Regions from separate parts of the Homo sapiens genome. Here region 2 is linked to region 1. The links come from fine-mapping of genetic effects on gene expression. A gene starts in region 1. The other region holds a variant in brackets. All regions are shown on one strand. Distances are between the middles of the regions. Region 1 holds the start of LINC02370 (long intergenic non-protein coding RNA 2370). Region 2 has its middle 74 kb from the start of LINC02370.

Region 1 (5,377 bases):
TAACCCACCTGGGCAAAAGTGCGTGGTTCAATGCCAAGGCCAGGGCCATGGGCTCGGCGTTTCCCTGCAGAGTCCCTGGGCTTCTCGGCCCATCACAGGCTTGAGGATCAGCACCTGCAGCCCGTGGTGGTTGTTTTCTCATCTGTAAATGCGGATTTGGGCTTTAGAGCTGACTCTTTGTCACCGGGAGCACAGCCTGTCTTCTCTGTTCCTTTCCTTTGTGACTCAGAGGCCCTCTGCGCCTTGGTGGGAGGAAGAGGAATCATCCTTGTTGCTGACCCCCTGTGACGGTGCTGGCTGGACGGGGTGTGCATCGTGCCAGGAGCTGGTCCCTCATTCATCCTCACAGCAGCCCTCCCGGGCTCGCCCGCCGTGACTTTCACTCCCATTTCACAGACGAGGACCCTGAGGTCCAGGGAGGCTGAGTGGGCTGCCCTCCCCAGCTGGAGCCTGGAGGGGATTTGAACTCGCGCCTCGGGGCAGAGCCTGTTGCTGGCTGGGCTGGGCTGAGCTGACTCCCCAGGGCCATCAGCTCCACTGCATCCTGACCACCTGGGAACTGTGGCCAGCACTTTTCAGGCTCGAAGGCATGGCTGCTTACAGCGTGCCCGAGGATGGGTGTCATCGTCCTCACCCTCTGCACTCACTGTACCCGTCTTTGCAGGGTGAGGGCCCTGCCGGGTCCTACTCTGGGCACTGAGGTACAGAGGGAAGCCCTCCTGCCCTGCCCCAGGAGGGTGCTGGTCTCCACCAGGACACAGATGGAGGTGGATGAGGCCACAGCCCAGAGAAGAAGGGCAAGGTGGCAGGGGGTGCTGGTAGAGGAGTAGGACTAAGGGTGGTAGTGACACTGGTGAACCCCAGCTGAGGAGGGGCATGGACTCTTCTGCACATCAATGGGGAGCCACAGTATGTTGTAGAGGAAGCTCATTCTGCCCTGGGTCCCCAGGGAGCTAAGGTCTCAGCCACATTCACCCTCACAGCTGGGCCCTCCAGCCCCTCCCGCCCTGGGAAGTGTGGCCTCTGTTTTTGGTGAGGTCACAGCTGCAGGGAGGGCCAGGGCGCTGGATGCCTCAGGCTGCAAATGGCTTCACCCAATGCCTCCGGCTGTGGGGCAGAGGCCGGAGCTAGAAATAGACCCGCAGTGACCCCCACCCCAGCCACACAGTGCAGGCCTCCTGACCACAGGTCCTGGGCCACCCCTTCCTGCTCACATGGGAGGGAACCCTGAGCTTGAGGGAGGCTGTTCCCCAAACAAGGCCACCTTGTGTAGCTCTCTGAGGGCCTTTTATAATCTCCTTCCCTCCACCAGGACAGCCCAGCTGCAGCCCGTCCTCACCAGCGACCCCTGGGCCCTTCGCCTCAGGGCCAGGCAAGCGGGGAGCAGACAGCAGTGTGTGAGGAGGGAAAAGAGCCGGACTACGGGGACCCCCAGCCGCCCGCCAGCCCCTCCCCTGCAGCCTCTCTTCCCAGATGTCAAGGTCCCTGAGCTGCCCCGTGCAGGGAGCAGGGTCAGGTGAGGTCCAGCGGAGCCCAGAAGCTGTTGCAGGAGCAGGACGGAGGAAGCCCTGGGGGAAAGGCCCGGCTCCTGTCCTCCCTGTGTCCCCTCCCCTTCCTCTAAATGCCTGCCCTGCCTCCTGCAATGGTGGGATGGCCTGGAGGTGCAGAACGAGGCTGGCCCTGCCTTCTCTGGGGAGCTCAGCCACTGGAGGTGCCTGAGTCTGGGTTCATCATTGCAAAGACAGAACCTGTTCTGCCGTCTTTAGGGAAGGGAAAAGGGCCTGGGGGAGATGGGACAGTCCCCCTCATATCATTGGTGGCAGTGCGTGTAGGAGCAGTCTGTTTGGAGGACATTTTGTGTAATATCTATTCAAATCAGGTGTGCCCAGCCTAACCTGGGGGCCAGCCCTTTACCATCCTCACACGCTCACATCGGCAGCCAATACCTGGACCGTCTAACCAATCAACTGGTTCCATTGACTCACTGACTGGCCTAACCCAACGGCATGAGCAGGGCTGGGGCCACAGGGGAGGAGCAAATCTAGACAGCAGTACAATTCGCCATGTCTCCAGAAATTCTTTAGGACATTCTATTGTGCCTGTCCAGGCTCTGATGCTGGCCTCAGCAGCCCCCATCTCCTCCTCACATGAGGTCCTGGGCTGTTCCACTGAGCCCTCCACTTTCTGAAATGAATGGGGACACGTTCTATTGTTATTCGAATTGTGGGAAATTCGACAGTTATTCGAGTTGTGGAAAAGCAGGCTCCAGAACGTCTTGGAGATATGACTTAGCAATCTGCAGGTGTCCACGGTGAGTCCTCCCCAGTAGGAGGAGACAGGAGTCTCTCTGGAAGGCGAACGCCACAGCTGCCCAGATGTTCTCCTGCAGGGGAACCAGACACCATCATGACCCAAAAGGGCTGCACTTCTCGGGGTTTGCAGAATGTGGCAGAGGTGGAAAAACTCGAAAGTCCCTAAACACAGGTAAGCAGACAGCGCAGTGGTGGTGGTGTCTCCCACACTTTGAGTCTGTGTTTGCATGTGTGTGCACACGTGTCTATATGTGCATTTGTATCTGCTTCTTCCATGTGTGCATGCCTCTGTGCATGTGTGTGTGTGTGCATGTACTTCTGTCTCTGTGCATGTGTGTGTGCATGTGTGTGTCTGTGTGAATGTTTGTGTATCTGTGCATGTGCATGGTTGTGGTATACATGCATGCGTATATATGCATGTGTGCACATGTGTGCTTGTGTGTGTCTCTGTGTGTGCATGCATATGTGTGCATGTGTGTGTGTGAATGTGTTTGTGTATCTGTGCATGTGCGTGTTTGTGGTATACATGCATACGTATATACGCATGTGTGCATACGTGTGCTTGTGTGTGTCTCTCTGTGCACGCATGTGTGTGCATGCGTGTGTCTCTCTGTGTGCATGCATGTGTGTGCATGTGCAGATTCATGTTTCTGTGTCTGTGCCATGCACGTCTGTACATATGCACATGTGCATGGGTGCATTCATATGCACACGTGTCTTGTGTACATGCATGTGTGCCTGTGTGTGAGTGTGCGCCTGTTGAGTCAGGTCTGTGAGTCCCCCTGAGGGCCAGGAGGCCGTGGGCAGGGCTGGTCCTGGAGAGCACTTCTTTTCCACGCACTTTGGCTTCCCCCGCTGAGCGCACCCCCCGCACTTGGCTGGCTGCTTTCACCCCAGCCCCGTTCCTCCTGTGCCCAAGAACCTCCTCCTCGTCTCCTCCTCAGCCACGCAGCTGGTGCAGCACAGCAGACCTGCACTGAAATGCATCGGGGAGAAAAAGGGAGGTGAAGTCAAACATCCCATCTGCTCCTGTCCACGTCCTCAGGTTCACTGCCAAGTTCTGACACTGCCGACTCCCCACACTGAAGGCAAATGGCCTCCCCGAATGCAAAACTCATTCCTTGCTTGCCAGCACCCAGAGATTCTTTCTGAAGATGTTTATCTTTTCTCATTCACTCTTCAAAATCCTCCATGTAGAGAAAATGCCTTAGAATTTCCTGAATAAGGAAACAACAGGCAGCATCCTCATCTACATCCCCTCGGGATTGCTGAATGGAATGCAGAGAGGAGAGGAGAGTGGAAAATAGCCCCTGGGTTTTAGGAAATATTAAGCAGTTTTTCAAGAGCCAAGAGCCCTGCAGGAGGCAGAAAAGGATATGATTTTGCAGTTTTGAATACGCTTTTCTCTGGGAGTAGCACTTTTCTACCAGAGGCTGACATTGGAGGGACCACCTGACATCAGATTAGACATTCACAAAAAGGCGCTGCAGGCAAGTGCTTCATAAAAAGACCTTCACCAAAGATGCACCTGACCCCCGGGCTCAGGGAGGCTCTTGTTAAATGGAGGATATTATGCCTGCTCTATTTACTGTGGGGCCTGCTTGGGGCTAATCAGAGGTTGCTTCAAATCTGTGCAGGTAGATGTATTCATGCAATAATACCTCATCTCCACTATATTGTTGTTTTAGCAAAAGATACTTTCATTCATGTTTTCATCTTTTTATTGTGGACAATTTTAAACATGCAGAAATGGAGGGAGAAGGGTATGGAGAACACCCATTTACCATCAGCCAGATGTCACAATTACCGATAACTTCCTGCATTTGCTTCTTCTCTAGATTTTTTGGAATTAATTCGAAGTACATTGCAATCACGATGGCCTTTTACTTCTAAATTCTACACTCTGCACCTCTAAAATATACAAGCATGTCCCAGGACCACCCTCAACTACTTCAGGTCCCTCGGAAAAGGGTAAGGTCAGCCAGGCTGGACACCACGCTGTGGGTGGCCTTAGGTCCTGCAAGCAACTGTGGCCACCAGCGTCGCAGCAGCAAGGTGAGCCTGAGCAGGAGCACACTGTCCCTACCTGTCTCTGTTTCTTCCTGCCCCTTGGGGTGTGGGCACCTTGCCAGCTGGGAAGCTGTAGTCTGTAACAGTGATCATCGTGCTCTTCGCTGCCGTCATTTCCAACATCGTCCGAGAATTTATGAAGTGCCGAGAATCCCTCTTACGGCTTCTCCTATATTCAACTACTGAATCCACATAAACCTGTTTTACAGATGGGCTTATAGAAGTGCAGCGATGCAAATCCAGACCGTTTAGCTTCCAAGTTCATACCCACCATCATCTTCTGCTCAACTGCAGAAGCATCAGGGTGAAGCCGGCCGTGCTGGGCTGGTGGGGCAGGTGGCAGTGGCTACCATGCAGGTCCGTGTGGGACTCCCCAGGGGACTTCATGCTGCATGATTCCCACCTCATGTGTGGACCTTGGTACCAAACTTGTGCTTAGGATTCAATTCCACATGTGAGTTATTCCACGATTCCAGTTCTGTACGTGTTTTCCATGTACGTTCACTAAAAACAGACCGAGAAACTTTATATCCAACTGATGACTCTGCCTAAGACTGTAGCAGGATTGATAAGGAATCAGAGACCGATGGGGTTGAGGAGGATATTTATTATTTAGGTACACCGGCCCAGTAGGACTAACATTCCAATGACTGAGCCCTGAACAAAGAGTTAAGTTACCTTTTAAGCATTTCATGGGGTGGGGTGTTGTGGGGGGGAGATCTGTGCAGGGGGAAGCATATTACAGAAGCGAGAAACAAAGACAGTTATTCAACTGAGACATGTATTACATCATTTCTTACTTTTCAAGGAAAAACATGTTTTGCGACTTGAGTTTATCTGTCTGGTGACCTTGCAGCTGCACAGCTAGGGAAACAGGGTCTTCACAATGCCTGGGAAGGGAGGAGAGATAAGGCTCACTAGCCACAGAAAAACAGGCAGTTAATTTTTAAAGGACTCCAGCTCTTTCTCTTTCTCAAGGGGAATTGGGTTTTCTT
Region 2 (5,377 bases), 74 kb after region 1:
AGGTCAGAAGTGCAAAACCAAGGATTGTGCAGGGATGGTTCTTTCCAGGGGCTCTGAGGCACCCTCCATCTCACGTCTCTCTACAGCGTCTGGTGGCTGCTGGAAACCTTTGGCGTTCCTTGGCTTGTACATGCATCATTTCAATGTCAGCCTACGTCTTCACATGGCTTTCTTGTGTCTTCAGGTTTCAAATATTCCTGTGATTTTCTCTTGTAAGGACACTAGTCACTGAATTTACACCCTTAATCCAGGATGATCTCTTCTTGAGATCCTTAAATTACATCTACAAAGACCCTGTTTCCAAATAAGACTACGTTCACAGCTTCCAGTATTAGGACATAGACATATCTTTTTGGGGACCACGATTCAACCCACTACACCTTCCATCCAGACTTCTAGCCAGGAGTTAATGAGAACTTAGATTAGGCCACATGTATGGATCAACAGTGCAGAAATGTCTCCCCATCAGAGTGATCTAAAATTCTGACAATCACAAAATTTGTCCTGAAACTCCAGGCTCAAATTAAATTGTTAATGAGACATTTATTCATTTTCATTTGAGGTTTTTTTTTTTTTTTTTTTTTTTTTTAGACAGAGTCTCGCTCTGTCACCAGGCTGGAGTGCAGTGGTGCAATCTTGGCTCACTGCAACTTCTGCCTCCTTGGTTTAAGCAATTCTCCTGCCTCAGCCTCCCGAGTAGCTGGGATTACAGGTGCCCGCCACTATGCCCAGCTGATTTTTGTATTTTTAGTAGAGATGGGGTTTCACCATGTTGGCCAGGATGGTCTCGATCTCTTGACCTTGTGATCTGCCTGCCTCAGCCTCCCAAAGTGCTGGGATTACAGGTCTTTTTTTTTTTTTTTTTAACAATCCCAACTGAAAATCCCACATCAGATAAAATAAGACACATGAAGATATCCAGCTGCTATCGATAGCTGTGACTTACATAAACCCAAAGTCAATAAACCCCTTTCAGTACTGAAGGTGTTAAGCATGTAGTTTAATTATCTCCAGGGTTAAGTCTTGGGATAGATGAGGGACAACTCCTTGGTCAACCCAGAAGTGAACTAACACCACTGCCCTCCACACCAGCCCTCTGCGCTCACCAGTTCACTATTAACATTGAGCTTTTTCTCTGATTATCACGTGCACGTTTAACAGGTGCTTGCTTGGCACAGCATGGGTGCTCAGTGAATGGTTCTTGGATGAGCGAGTTTATCCCGTCCAGGGGCTCTGCTCAAGCCTCAGGCAGCCAGATTCCCCATCCAGGCCCCATGGCTCACTGGCGCAGCGCTAACATGACCCCAGTATCCAGGTGCTCTTGGGGTGGCTGACCAAAGCAGTCAGGACTTTTGGGGTGACAAGCAATGGAAACCGAAGGGGAGGGTGGAACACCTGGCTGGGAAAGGACAGCTCGGGGTCCACAAGCAGGAGCGGCTCACGGAGCCTGTTCGGGGTCTCCCTGGAGTGCATGGGCCCCACTGACTCACTCTGCCCACGCGGGTCTCACTTAGGACCCGAGTGAGGGGGGCTGCTTGGGTTAAGAGGGGCATTTTCACCTGGATTGAACAGTGTCTGCGAGGTCTCTTCCCAGCAGGAAATGGGATGTTGTGGTTGAAGGAGGGAAATGGACATGAGTGACTGTCATGCAGCAGTTGTCCACTCACTGACGGTTCAGATCAATAGATTTGTGCAAAGTTAATTACAACAAGACATGGCATGAATTCACAGGACATAAAGGCCAAAGCTTAATCACGGGTGGCACACGTGTTGTGTCCCTGAGGGCTACAGGACATTTCCTCCAGGGTAAGGGTGACCAGGGACCTGGTGGCAGCTGCTAAGTAAAGGAGGACGTATCCCCGCAGTGTGCAGACAAACCCTGCCCTTGGCCCTCCACGGTGGGCTGGAGTAACCTTTCCTGCCTTCGTTCTTTTTATTCAGATTAATTATCCTCCATGGAGCAGGAAATCCCACCGCCTTTCAACAGCCAGGAACAGCAGCTGCTAAACAGAATTCACTGCAGGACAGTCTGCTTCCCTCCCAGGCATTTGCACGGGGCCTTCCCAGTCAGAAGGCTGGGCAGGAGCTTGTGCAGAGAGAGCTGGAATTCTGGGAAAACACGTTCCATCACCATGGCTGATTCGGAGTAAAAGACACATTAACTAAGAAGCTCAGTCTGCAACCCCGTGTGCAAGAAAGTGACTTTGAAATCGTCTTTCTATAATGGAAATGCACTTCCGTTTCTTTCTCCCATCTGCGTCCTTGGTGGAGAGGTCATCCCAGCCAGGTCAGGGTCTCCTGGAAAAGGTCAGTCTTTTCCCTGGTGTTCTAAGTTCTGCAAGGGTAAAGTGAGCATTTTTAAAATACATATGTTTGGCAAATTTGCAGACATATGAATGTGAGCTGGATCAGAAATCCCACCTCCTCCCCTTGCACCCAGGTGTGTGTGGAGCTGGCGGCAGCTGCAGCGAGGGCTGATTCCTCACCGGCTGGCTCTGTGCATCCTCCCAGCCCTGGTCCCCAGCCCTCCCGAGGACAGTTCTGCACACTCCCTGAGACCCTTTACAGGAGCTCATGTTGACCTAATCAGCCAATGTCATCGTTTGTTCTTAAGGTAAGGGCTTTGACACATGCGTGGGGGCCGTATGATGCCGTGACATTGTCTGGGAGGGCACCTGGCCCAGGCATGGCTGTTCTTGTGGCCTCACTGGGACATCCTCACTCCTATGAGTCCCTCAGAGGAGTCTGGCCTGCTCAGGTCTCTGTGGCTTTCTCCTCTTCCCCTTACCCTCCTCTCCCACGTCCTCCTCCTTCTCCCTCCTCCTTTTTCTCCTGCCTGTCCTCCCCCGCTTCTCCTTCTCCTCCTCCTCTCTATCTCCCTCCTCCCTCCTCCTCCACCTGTCCCCTCTGAGCCACCTGCAGAGTGGTCTGTGGGTGCAGCATGTTCATGGTGCCCTTGCATGCATCCCTCATGGGCAGAGGACAGGGAGAAGGGGGAGTGTGCTGATGGTGGGCAGTAGGGGGCTCAGGCTGTGCTGCCACTGAGCCTCCTGGGGTCTCCCCTCCCTGCTGGCTCAGGAGATTTGAGGAAAACCCCTGTGGCAGGCTGACATAGGGACAGTGAATCGGGGTCCCTCTGAGTGGGGCCTGGAGATACGAGCGGCA[G/A]CTCCCCATGCCCGCTGCTGGGCCATTCAAGAGCAGAGTCTCCAAGGCTGGTGATTCCCCTCCAGAAAAGGCCAGCAATGCCCACGCAGCAGGATAATACTGTGAAGATTTGACTGATGTATGTTTGCCTTGGGTTGTCTCTTTTATTCCCTGACCCTTCCCCACTAGGGTCCTCACTGTTGAGGCTTTAGCTCCCAAGAGGAAGCCCTTCAGCCAAAATAGAGAACAAAGCAATAAATTACTGCTCTTAGAATGCGTGTGTTTCAAGTACATGCTGCAATGCAGAGACTCTTGGAAAATGTTTTCTAAGCCAGTTTTTTTTTCCTAGTCCTAAAATAGGTAGAAATTATTTCTGGGTGGGGGAAGAGAAAAGAATCAGAGAAGAAATAGAGACCCCGGGGAGGGTCTGCGAGAAGGGGCCCTGCACCAAACGCCATCTCTCTCTTAGTCCTAAAATGGAAAATGACGCATGACCCCGAGACATCTGGTGACTGAAAGCAAAGAGGACTTGGGTTCATTTCCTACCTGGGAATCTGTAAGCAGTGACGTCACAGTGGGCCCCACACTGCCAGATGAGGGTACACAGAGAAAATGTGGCTGGTGAGGCTTCAGGGCACAGAGACTCGGGAGAGACTGGGATCTTATCTCCCAGTACGTGAGCGAGGGAGTGATGCACCCTGGGCCCCAGAGGACCAGGTCAGGCAGTGGAGGGAGGGATGTGGCAGCATGGCTGCTCTGGGCTAGAGGAGGTGACACCAGGCACGCTGAGTACTGCACAGCCAGATCCTGAATGGGACATGCACGAACAGCAGGTGTTGGCATGAGAGGGGATGGCTGAGGATCTCACCCTGGCCCCATGAGAACCAGCAACATACAGGCAACAGAGCAGGGAAGGGAGAAAATCCTCAATGGTCTAAAAAGACACTACCACCCCAAATTGACGCCGTTCCCCTGGAACTGAGTCTACTCTTTTCTGCCATTAGGCAATGTGTGGGCTGTTGAGAAAGACTATACTCAGTTATAAAGGAACCAGGCGATTCTGCACACATGAGTTGATGGCTTGGGAATAGATGCCCACTGCATTTACAAGAGTGCTTTGGGAGAGAAGGTTAAATTCAGTGTTAACAAATGTCAAATTTCTTTTAAGACCAAAGAGAAACAAAAAGATTTGTTTTATTAACCAGGAAGTAAGATTGACCCAGGGCCAACAAAACTGATGTGAGTCTGATACCACTCTGGATTTGGGGTGGTAGGGGTTAGGGTGGACACTCAGGGTGAGCAGACTTCAGGGTGGGCACAAGGACTGCTCAACCAAGTTCTGGGTGCCGCTGGGCTGAGGAGGAGATAGCAGAAGCAGTAGTCAAATGTAGGAAAGAGGAAGAGAGACAGGGCTGGACTGGGAGAAGAAGCACTGCATTGAGGAAGCCACAGGTGAAGATCTGATTCTTTCCTCAGCCTCATGACTTGGGAGCACTACCTCCTTACAGTCCAGGGAGGAGGGAGGAAGGCTTCATAGCAAAGGAGGAAAACCCAGCAGAGTTTCTTCATTAGACTCATAAAAAGTTGTTTAATTCATTCATTTGTGCACTGGTTTCTTCATTGCTTCAGGAGAGTTTTGTCTACTACATCACTGACACTGTCCATGCACTGTTGACCAAGGGAGATCAAAGTTAATAAGGGCCCTTCTCTCTTAGAAAACAGATGTAAAATGACAAAATGAGTAGCAAAGCAATATAATTTTAGATAGTGATAATTGCTACAAAAGAAACCAAAAAGTGAAAAGATAGATAAAAACTTGGGGAGGCCACTTCCATAGGGTCAAAGAAGTTCTCACTGAAGCAAGTTTTGTGCTGAGAACTCAAAGCTGAGAAGGAATCAGACATGTGGATATATCAGGAAGAACATTCTAGACAGAGGGAAGAGCAAATGCTACATTCCATGCAGAGGGAAAAGATTTACTTATCCTTCAACTCTCAAAAAAAGGCCTATTAAAGGAAGAGGCATGCCAATTTCCAGGTATAAATACTATTTATCTCAATTTGTATTGTCCAGTGTTTATCTTAATTTTGAATTATATATGCTGATGTCCAATTTCCAACCAAAAATTACAAGACACAGAAAAAAGCACAAAAGAGTTCATTGTCAAGAGACAAAGCAACCAACAAAATTAGACAAATATGTCACAGATGTTGGAACTATAAGTCAGGGAATT

What was found. PIP is the estimated chance that this variant, and not a neighbour inherited with it, causes the effect. A credible set is the group of variants that fine-mapping cannot tell apart.
Region 2: its variant is the best candidate, but not a certain one, in a credible set for the expression of LINC02370 in tibial nerve (GTEx, PIP 0.71).

Annotation. Positions count from the first base shown.
Region 1 is chr12:131,345,178-131,350,554 of GRCh38, forward strand. It overlaps LINC02370 (long intergenic non-protein coding RNA 2370), which reads left to right and starts at 2,293. Exons shown (of 5, transcript NR_103736.1): 1 at 2,293-2,484; 2 at 4,151-4,367. RefSeq lists a silencer at 587-811 and enhancers at 1,353-1,990, 3,183-3,727.
Region 2 is chr12:131,419,217-131,424,593 of GRCh38, forward strand. No RefSeq gene overlaps it. Among named protein-coding and RNA genes, the nearest start is that of LINC02370, 74 kb to the left of the region's middle. The variant G/A (reference allele first, on the strand shown) is at 3,166.